Regions from separate parts of the Homo sapiens genome. Here region 2 is linked to region 1. The links come from fine-mapping of genetic effects on gene expression. A gene starts in region 1. The other region holds a variant in brackets. All regions are shown on one strand. Distances are between the middles of the regions.

Region 1 (5,377 bases):
TTTCGGCAGACAGATTCAGGAAACACATATATGTATATTAACTTATGCATATGCACATACCTATATTTATTTTTATATCTATTACAATAACTTGAAGCTCATACTGATGTTTCCAAATCTAATCAAGCACCACATATTTTCCTCCAGGCATCTCCTCTTGCTCATTTGTAACTTCCTTCTCTGACAGTGAGCAACCTGCTTCCCACCATCTACAATTTATTTATACACATATTCCACCCTACTATACATGCATAGTTTCAGAATTGCTAACCTGTACCCCGTGAGAAATAAATTTACAATGACAGTACAGTGTTGACGTACAATTCTTTTTTGTATCCATTCAAAATACTTTTCCAAAGTTACTTAGAGGCTTGCATGGTGGCTCACACCTGTAATCCCAGCACTTTGGGAGGCTGAGGCAGGTGGATTACCTGAGGTCAGGAGTTCAAGACCAAACCCCATCTCTACTAAAAATACAAAATTTAGCTGGGCATGGTGGTGTTGCAAACATGTAATCCCAGCTACTCAGGGGGCTGAGGCAGGAAAATCACCTGAACCCAGGAGGCAGAGGCTGCAGCGAGCTGAGATTGTGCCACTACACTCCAGCCTGGGCAACAGAGTGAGACTCTATTTCAAATGTTAAACTACCATAGCAATTAATAAACATTTCAGACAAGATGTTTGGAGAATATATGGACATCCTACCTCCTCTTAAGTTTTACTTGCTAACTTTAGCATTCAAGTCAGTGTATTCTGCCTGCAGCAATTACTGCTGCAGGCCAAAAAAAAAAAAAAAAGGTTCTTAGATCAGCCCTTCGGCCCCTCACCCTCTTTAGTGAAGTTACATGTTTATAATATAGTTTAACTGATTTGTCACAGCCTGCATTCCATCCCCAGAAATGCTGGCAGATTTATTAAATGTGCATATAGTCAAGTTTACTCTTTCTGGTGTATAATTCCACGGGCTTCAACAAATGGCTAAGACTCATGCATCCACTACCACAGTATCTTACAGAAAAGTCCTGTCACTCTAAAAAGTCCCCTGGTACAGCTCCTTTGTATTCAACTCCTTCCCTCTTTCCTGACTGCCAATGATTAGGTTTTCACTCCTGTTTTGTCTTTTCCAGAATGGCATTCTTATACATGGAATCATACAATATGTAACTTTTTGAGTCTTGCTTTTTGCACTGGGCAAAATGCAATTTGCTTTGCTTGGGAACCCTGTACCTTCGTAATGAATCATCACATTCAATAGTGTCTCTTGGAATTCGCCCCCCTTTTTCCTTTCCCTCTATTACCCCATTCAGGCTCCTGTTACCTCTTGCTCAGTTTTGTTTAGATCCTATCTGCTTTGATCCACTTTCCGCTGCCTGATTAACCTTCCAGTAGCACACCTATTTCATGTCATTTCCATGCTCCAATAGCTTCAAAGCTTTCCCACTGCCTTCAGGAAAAAGTTCCAACTCAGGCATTCACAGCCATTCAAAATGTGGTCTTAATTCACCCCACTCATCACCACCACACAGGAGCCACTATTCTTATCAGAATAGTGAAGTTTAAAGCCATTCTCTCTACCAACACAATTTCTACCCATCCTTCAAATTCAGTTTAAATGACATTTTCTTATAGACCAACCTCTACATGTTAGCATTCCTCAAATCTTTGCCCTAGGGAACTTCCCTTCTCTCTCCACACTTCTCCCTAGGTGGTCTCATCCAATCTCCTGGCTTTTTATGCTGAGTACTCCCAAATCATGTCTCCATTATGAACTTCTCCTTGGGGTCCAAACTTGTGTATAACTGCTTATCTGATACCTCTAATTATGTGTCTAACAGGAACCTTACCCTTAATATGTCCAAAACATAATTCTCTATGTTGTTCTTTATGTTATTGTTGTTTGCCCCACAAACAACAATATACTATTTTTCCCTGCCCTATCGTCCTCCATCTCAGCCAATGGCACATCATCTACTTTACTGCTCAAGTAAGAAATCTGAGTTACCCTTGACATTTTCCTCTCTACTCTGCCACGCTGAACCATAAGTTAGTTCTCTTAAATGTCCCTTACGTCACCACCCTAATGCAAACTATTACCAATACAATCTCTTGAGCTTCCAAATGTAATACATTTTCTAAAGAGAACCAGGGCCTATTCATGATTCTCACTTGCTTACAAGTCTTCAATGTTTTCTACACATGGTAATAGGAACGGAAATGTTTTCCTATTGTACAGAAAAAAAAATTCCCCATCATGACCTTCAAGGCCCTACAGAACCTAGTTCCACTCTATCCGGCTAACTTTATCTTGTACTCTAACTATACTCCTTCCTAGCTCCCATCTCAGGAACTTAGCCCATTATCGCCTCTGCTTGAAGTACTCCCTGAGCTTCCAAATCTCCGTTTAAAGATCACTTCTTCAGACTCCACTATCTGCCAACTCAGCATCCAGTTCGTTTCCTCCCAGCACTTAGAATCTGCGTACATTCAGGCAAACCGCCTAGCACTGGAGTTGGGGTTTGTGAAGTAGCACAGACAGGCTGATCAGGCCGAGCACGGGCTGGGATTCCGGAGTGAAGCTAGTCCACTCTAACCCGGCACGCAGGGCAACGTGGTGGGAGAGAGGTCGGAGTCCCGCCCTTCTTTTTTTTTTTTTTTTTTTTTTTGAGACGGAGTCTTGCTCTGTCTCCCAGGCTGGAGTGTAGTGGCACGATCTTGGCTCACTGCAAGCTCCGCCTCCCGGGTTCACGCCATTCTCCTGCCTCAGCCTCCCAAGTAGCTGGGACCACAGGCGCCCGCCACCATGCCCGGCTAATTTTTTGTAGTTTTAGTAGAGACGGGGTTTCACCGTGTTAGCCAGGATGGTCTCGATCTCCTGACCTTGTGATCCGCCCGCCTCGGCCTCCCAAAGTGCTGGGATTACAGGCGTGAGCCACCGCGCCCGGCCAGTCCCGCCCTTCTTGCCAGGCTCCAGTCAGTCCCAAACTCCTAGCCCAGAAAGAGGCCAGAGGAGACTGCCCAGTGGACAACAGCCCCGAGAGACCTTCCCGACTTCCAGCGCCCGGCAGGGTGCGAACCCCTCCCAAGAGCGACCGCTGAGCCTGCCACACTCACCGCACACGTGGGACCGAGACAGCTCGCGCAGCGGATCCCGACCGCCTCTCCGCTTCCGCTTCCTTGCCTTGCTCCGCCCCCGGGCCGCTTTTTTTCATCTTCCGCGGCGGATCAGGGACTAAGAGGTGGAGCTTCCCAGAGAATACAAAAATTCGGAATTTCTATTGGTCCGCTGCTGTTATGCCTCCTCTTGAGGCGCGAGGATTTTGGCCCTTGCAAGAATCCGTCGGGCGGAGGACGCGACAACGGCCACGGGAAATGACGTCATTAACCCTGTGGCTTCCGTGCTGGAAAGAGAGGGAGAGCTCTTGCGAGGCAGAACAGGCTGCTGAAGGACAGACCTGGCTGGCGCGGTTAATAAGAGGCCTGCATCCCGTAGCCTGAACAAATATTGAAGTAGCTAAAGTTTCTAAAGTGTGTTAATTTGCATACTTCCTCAGCAGTCCAGCGTGGAGGATAAAAGGGGTATCTTGTGAGTCGATTTGAATTGTAATCCCGTTTTTTTCACTTGCTAGCTGTGTGGCTCTGGGAAAATTACAGTTTTTATGAGCTTTGGCTTCCTGATCAATAAAATAGAAATAATTAAGTGATACGTGCAAAGCGCTTAGCATGGAACGCTCTCAATAAATGTTTGCCATTTTTAGTGTCTGCTCGTGCCTGGAAACTGCTGTTATTCCATTTTATACTTCAGGAAATAAGATTGTGGTTAGGATATATGCCCCATTTTCCAGATGAAGAAACTGACACCACAAACTTGCTCGTGTCAAGCAACAGAATTTTATTCTTTAACTGTTCTAGAGGCAAGAATTCCAAAATCAAGCTGTTGGCAGAGCCCTGCACCTTTTGAAGGCTCTAGGGGAGAATGCTTTGCTTCTTCAGCTTCTAACGGTTCCAGGCGGTCCGTGGCCTCTTGTTGCATGACTCCAATCTCGGCCTGTCTTCTAATGGCCTTCTCCTGTGCCTGTGCCACTTCTCTGTGTGTTTTTAGGACACTGAACATTGAATTTAGAGTCCACGGGGATAATCCAAGATCATCTCATCTGGAGGTCCTTAATCACATCTGCAAAGGCCCTTTTCCCAAATAAGGTCACTTTCACATGTCCTGGGAGTTAGGACATAGACATATCTTTTGGAGACTATTCAACCCACTGCATCTGTAAAGTTGAGGAACTGGCACTTGATCCCTGGTGCCAGACTTCAGATTTTACTGTCTTCCAACTTACTCCGTTTTCTGGCCACTAAGGAGTTAGAGTTGAAACTGGTAATTTAGTAGACTGTATGCTTCTTGATGACAGGGGCCATCATTACTTTCCAGGCACTTATCTCACTATGCAGCACATAGATACTTGATAAGTTCTTGTCGTCTACCTTAACTGTTACTAGTTTACATTTCAGCTCATTTAAATCTCATAAGAACGTTTTAAATAGGTCTTTTCTCATTTTACAGAGAAAGGCAAAACATAGTAGCTTTGGTCCAGTGAGCCTGACTCTAAACTCAACGTGGCTGCCTCCGTACTGCTTTCAATAATTCAGTAAATGCTAAGAGAAGAGAATATGGAACAGGAATTGCAGGAGGCCCATCAGCTGTGCCTTTTGGGCAAATAGCATAGTAGTGGGGATATTAGACACCTTGAAACACCTGACAAGTAAATGCTGGCCAAAAAGAAAGAAAAATCGCAAAATACACCCTATCACACAACCCTGGGAAGGGATACGTTTGTGTTTTCAACTCGACAGACAGCAGCACCCCATATCCTTGAAGATAGGTCCATGCAGTTGCCTTAAGCATCTGCACCAAAACCCTGCTATTCATTTGCCTTTTCACCAGGGAGGAAAAAAAAAATGTTATCACATATCAAAGCCCTTGATTATTATTAAAAACTTTTTTATCAAGTCTTCTGTGAAAGTGGATTGATTTGGATTTTTTTTTTTTTTTTGGAGTGAATTGAAAGCATCGTGTGGTTTTGCAGAACAGCACAAAAAAAGCTTATCCTGTAATTTTTTTTTTTGTCAAGCAAACCCATTAATTCTTCAAATATCTAATGATCTAAATGTAGACCACTAGGTGTACTCCTACAAGCCTAAGATGCTCTTCTTGCGTGATACACAATTTAATCAGAGCAACTAGACTTGCACACATCCAAGAGGTTAATAACAGTACTATAGCAATGCAATGACGAGCATTGAGATTAGAATCAAAGGAACCTGGCTTACAATCTAAATTCTGTATGGCCAAGGACAAGATAGCCAACTTGTATGGGCCTCA
Region 2 (5,377 bases), 40 kb before region 1:
AAAGGCTGGGAGTGGCTAGGCATGGTAGCTCAGGCGTTCAGGACTAGCCTAGGCAACATGTCAAAACCCCGTCTCACAAAAAATGCAAAAATTAGCCAGGCATGGTGGTACATGCCTGTATTTCCTGACGCCTGACAGGCTGAGGTGGGAGGATCGCTTGAGCCAAGGAGGCAGAGGTTGCAGTGAGCTCAAGTTGCACAGCTGCCACTCCAGCCTAGGTGACAAGATCCTGTCTCAAAAAACAAACAAACAAACAAAAAACCCAAAACACAAAAGGCTGGCAGAGAAGGTAGAGAAAATATCTCACTCAGAAAGCAAAGCAAAAAAACAAAAATATTAAAAATAGGGAAAAGAAAGAAGATTAGAGGCTCAAATCATTTCAACTCTCAGTAATAGCTCCAAAGACAAAGAACAGAGAAAACACGGGGCAGGGGGTACATTAAAAAAATCAGAAAAAAAACCATGGAAAAACATCTCGCAGGATGAAAGGATCTGGCTCTTCCGACTAAAATGGTTCACCAAGTGCCTAGCATAAAGAAGGAAAAGAAAATATACATAACACTTTCCAATGCACACGATCCTGAAACACGAGAAAGCTGGAGACTTAAAGGCCGCATATGAAGATTGAGAATAAGGATGGCACTGGACATTAAACTTCTACAACTTTGCAATCTAAAGACAATATTGACGAGCATCTTCAAATTCTGAGGCAAAATTAATTTTAAACTAGAATTCTATGTCCAGCTAAACTAGACATCTGGGTTTGAGAGTAGAATAAAGACATTCGGACTTGCAAGGTCTTTAGAATGTATTCTTTCTCGGGAAGCTACTAGAGGATGTGCCGTGTTGAGAAAAGGGTGTTAAGCAAGAGAGATGCATGGGATCTGAGAAATGGACTTTTCATAGGAGAGAAACTAAGGGAAGGCAGACGATGATGATGGTGAAGGAGCAGCAGTTCTTCAGGACATCCCGAAAGCCAGGAGGGGTGTCTCCAGGAGAAGGTGGAAATGCTTGCCGACTTGACATGTTGGATACTGTGGAAATTGGTATTTAGAGACAGCCAGGTTAGCATACTTTTGGCTGCAAGTTGCAAAAGATCCAACTCAAAACTGACCTAAAATGAAAAACTGGGGTTTATTCTCTCACATAACCAGAAGTCCACGGCTAGCGCAGCTCCAGGAGTTAACTTATTCAACAGCTCAACATCATCAAAGTTCCAGACTCTTTTCACAAACCTTTGCTCAGCCATCCTCGGCATATTTGCTATTTCCTGTCAGGCTTCTAGCTTGCAGGCTGGGCCTAGTCCTGCACATACCAAAGCTGACGGGCAGGAAGGGGACTCTCTACAACCCAAGAGACCTAAGAAACCCTCCCAGGAATACCATCTCTCTTCCAACTTTCACTGGTCAGGCTCCTTCCTAAATCCGTCACTGATTTAAGAAATGGGCCCTCCGGACTCGGTCATACCAGTGCTCTTCTGCATAGGACACACAAGCGAATCAGGTGTACAGCCGGGTGGGGTAATGAATGAGGTTGTCAAAATCCCAACACATTCACAACCAACTAGAGAAACACTGAATTATATCAGTTAGGATATTTAAGCCACGTGGAAAGGAGCAGACACCAGAATAACACAGAAGCCTTGGTGGGCTAAAAAAAAAAAAGAGGAAAATGGCTGTTGAGTAATTGCTAAGGGTGCCTTCAAGAGAAGAATTTAAGCAATTCTGACGTAAAGTTTAGGAAAAATCAACAGAGATGTAGAAACTAAGCAAATGAAAATAAATGACTAATTCCAGAAAAATTAAAATAGTAGAGGAAATGTAATGGCTGCTCACTACTTGAATCAATATTTAACAACATTTATGTAGGTATAATAAGGTAAACCCTGAACACTGATTTCATCATACATGATGCAATTCTACTGGGAAGGGAGGGAAGAGGAGTGGGGAACAGTGATGGTAAAAGTTCTTAATCTGCATTTCCTGTAATAGGAAATCAAAAGAAAATACCTGCAACTGATAGATGTATTTAGACATTTAGCAGAGCGAAGAATAATCAGTAGTTCTGGGGAGGGTGAGGCAGGGGTGCAGAGGAATGGGGTAGATTGCTGCTTCTGCTATAAGCTTTATAAAAGTACTCCTCAAATTATGTACACATTATCTTAGTTTCAAAGATGAAACAAAGAGCAGGGGTTCTTTCCCCCTTTCTCTGAATGGCTTCTTTATACAGAGAACACAAATCACAATGTATTAGCCAAACAAATGCAAGCTCTACTGTTGCCTTTTCCCCATTCACCTCCTTATCCCATCCCAGTTCCTCCAGCTCTCCACCCACACCCTTATATTGGGTGATGTGAGAATCCATGTCAAAAGTTACAGCCATCAGCGCTTTTGCAGTCTGGGAAGGATTCAATACACCGTGGCAGGAGGGGTCCTGGTAGTCGGTAGGCTGGAGTAGTCCTGGGACCCCATGGTCTGGAAAGGAAAGGCACAGCCAATTCCTCAGCAGGTGTAACTGCAGTGACAGACCTGAGTGAGTACCCCGTTAGACTACTTTGAGAAAGCAGCCAGATACTCATAGGCATGACTACATGAGCCTGACTGAGCTACCAATCCTTCTAAGCTTTGTTTGCTCAAACAACTGCAGTTTTAAAATTCAAACATCCTAGCTGTAGTTAAACTTCTGCACGTAACAAATTTCCACCTTCTTCCTTCTTATTCAAACTCCATAGGCTTTGACATTTTAGGGACAGTCTCAAGGGAGAAAGTCTAATCACAAGGAGCTATTTACTTGGAAGGCCCAAAATCAGAGACAAGGAGAACTTCCCAGTGACCCTGACTTTAACACCGCAATCCACAGTGATCCCCTAATTCATTTAGCACATTTCCTCCTATGAGCTTAACTTACCTGAGTGGCTTTCAAACAAAATCTAGCATGGAACCTAATCCATAAAACAGCTAGGTAGGCAGCTGTGAACCCCCCACTGCCCCGGTACTCATTAAATTCCACTTTACTGTGCCCACGACTCCCCCTGGCTCTTCTTTTC[C/T]ACATCCTGCCTTCCTTTGACAGGATGAAAGTCCTCTCAAGTCCCACCTTCTCCAGGAAGCCTTCTCAGACTATGCTCACTGAAGATGTCTTCTCCCCTGAATCAACTCATTCAACTACACTTTATATATCTGGTTGGTCCCACCATATATGATTGGTAAACCTTCCACATTAATTGCCTCACACTGATATGCTTACTACTCAGTGTAACAGAGGAGACAGCTGAGATTTTTAAAAAAGACCATTTAAAAAAACAATTTATATAAATAGATTCGTATACAAAGAAGAAACACATATACAGAGTACCCCAATTACCAGTATGGTGGACCCTACCCCTTCTTTTCTGCATTGGGAAACAGAACAGAGAACAGAAAAAATCATTCCATCTTGCTCTTAACTCTTTCCACCTATGTGCTCAGTTTTTCAAGTAGAATTTCTATTCCTTTGCTGGTGCTTTTGGTTTTTTCCAATGTAGGAATCAAGCTTTTCAGTGCAGCTTTGACTTTGTTTGCAACTTCCAGGTCACAACTCTGGAGGAGGCTGAAGAGAGGAAAAAAATTAAATTTCATAAGCATTCCTAGATCATCTCCAATACTACCTGTACCAACAGTAAAAAAGACTTTGTTAACTGTGACACAAGCCTTGTAACTATATACACATTATTTTTCATTCAAAGGATGAATGATGAGACCAGTAGCCCATATTATAACACCACGGAAAAAAACGTTTTAGAATCTTGCTGGTGGAGTCACCCAAGCAAAGACATTTGTAGGACCAACATCATTCCATACAGAGTTGGTTCTACCTTCACATTATCTTAGGACTTACTTACATCCTGTCTTAAAATGATTCTACATGTATTCTATCTTCCCTTCCCCATCTCAGGACTATAAGCTCAAGAGCAGGGACCGTATTTTATTTATTTCATGATGCTACATTTACAGAGCAGACAGCCAAAATATGCCCACCACGTGGCTGAATGAAAAGGTGTGAACAGAGGCACAGAGAGGTCAGAGTTAGCAGGTCTTCTCACTGAACTCCACAGCACTAACATTGAGTGAAAGGGCGAAGGGCTTCACTGTGGAGCTTCACTGCTTGGGTGGGAAACCTGCCTCTACCACTCAGTAACTGTACAACCAAGAGCATGCTATGTAAACTCTCTTAAGACTCAGTTTCCCGAATTGTAGAATGGGATTCACAACAGAGTCCACCTTCCACCTCACAGAGTGGTTTTCTGAGGCTCAAATGGCCTTGTATCTAAAGCACCCAGCCAGAGCCTGACACTTAGTAAGCACTTAATAAATGTTAGCCATTCTACAAAATAAGCCCGGCCTCTGCGTTCTGAAACCCTGCCCGAGTACTCTATCAGAAGTGAAAGGAGCCATAGAGGCTGGTAACAGCAGGCCCATTTCTCTGTGGATAGGACCTACAGCTCTGACCGCAGAGTACCAGTCCTGAATTTCCTGTTCTCTTCTTTTTCGGGACCCTTTGTAAATACGGACCTCTGAAACACATTTTAGAAATGAGGTACTTGGTATTTTCCAAAGTCCCTGGTCCCAGTAACTTCCAATATGTCAACAAAGAGGAGGATAAATTATCAGCACCAAGCAATATTCTACTGCTTATGGGAGATAAGAAACAATTCAGCTTGCCACCTACGATGCTAAAAAGTAAAGTTCCCTCGTAATGAATTTGTGACTCACTAGGTGTTTTTATTTCATACATCTTGGCTAAACACACAGTTATACAACACATAATAGTAAGTTATTGCTTACTGAGCATATGCCACATATTAGACATAATGCTAGGCATTTTATATGCATCATCCAATCTAGTTTTCATAACGACCATAGGGTTATCATTAATCTCATTTTTTTTACCACCAAGAAAATTAAGGCCCAGAAAAGCTGAATAATTTTCCCAAGGCTATGCACTAAGCTAGAACCCAGGCAGTCTGTCAAGTGCCAATGCTCCCAAATGTTAGAGAATTCTGCTTCTCTGAGTTACTTTTCAGCCAACATACAAGGCTGATTTTCTTTTCACCCAAAATTTACAAAAACAATTTTTTTGTATTATTGTTATATATAGCTCAACTTCCATTTAGAACTTCAAATATTTCCTCTGCTCCTGTTCCAATTCTGAGTAGTGCTCCATAATAAACCTATAGTATCCTTCCTATGTTTGAAATCCACCTAATGGGAGTTCTGATTGATGAACAACCTTTATAAATTAATTTCATGGCATTGCTGAAATTTCCAGTTAATTGAGTGTAATGAAAGAATGTGTCAGTAGGTGTTAACACTCCAAATGCCTGGTAAAAAAATTTGTAATG

Evidence for each region. PIP is the estimated chance that this variant, and not a neighbour inherited with it, causes the effect.
Region 2: its variant is fine-mapped to the expression of PUM3 in whole blood (TOPMed, PIP 0.97).

Annotation. Positions count from the first base shown.
Region 1 is chr9:2,840,934-2,846,310 of GRCh38, forward strand. PUM3 (pumilio RNA binding family member 3) reads right to left here and starts at 3,162. Exons shown (of 18, transcript NM_014878.5): 1 at 3,112-3,162. RefSeq lists enhancers at 2,191-2,752, 3,136-3,430, 3,254-3,493.
Region 2 is chr9:2,800,879-2,806,255 of GRCh38, forward strand. It overlaps PUM3 (pumilio RNA binding family member 3), which reads right to left. Exons shown (of 18, transcript NM_014878.5): 18 at 3,274-3,585. The coding sequence ends at 3,453. Among named protein-coding and RNA genes, the nearest start is that of PUM3, 41 kb to the right of the region's middle. The variant C/T (reference allele first, on the strand shown) is at 3,047.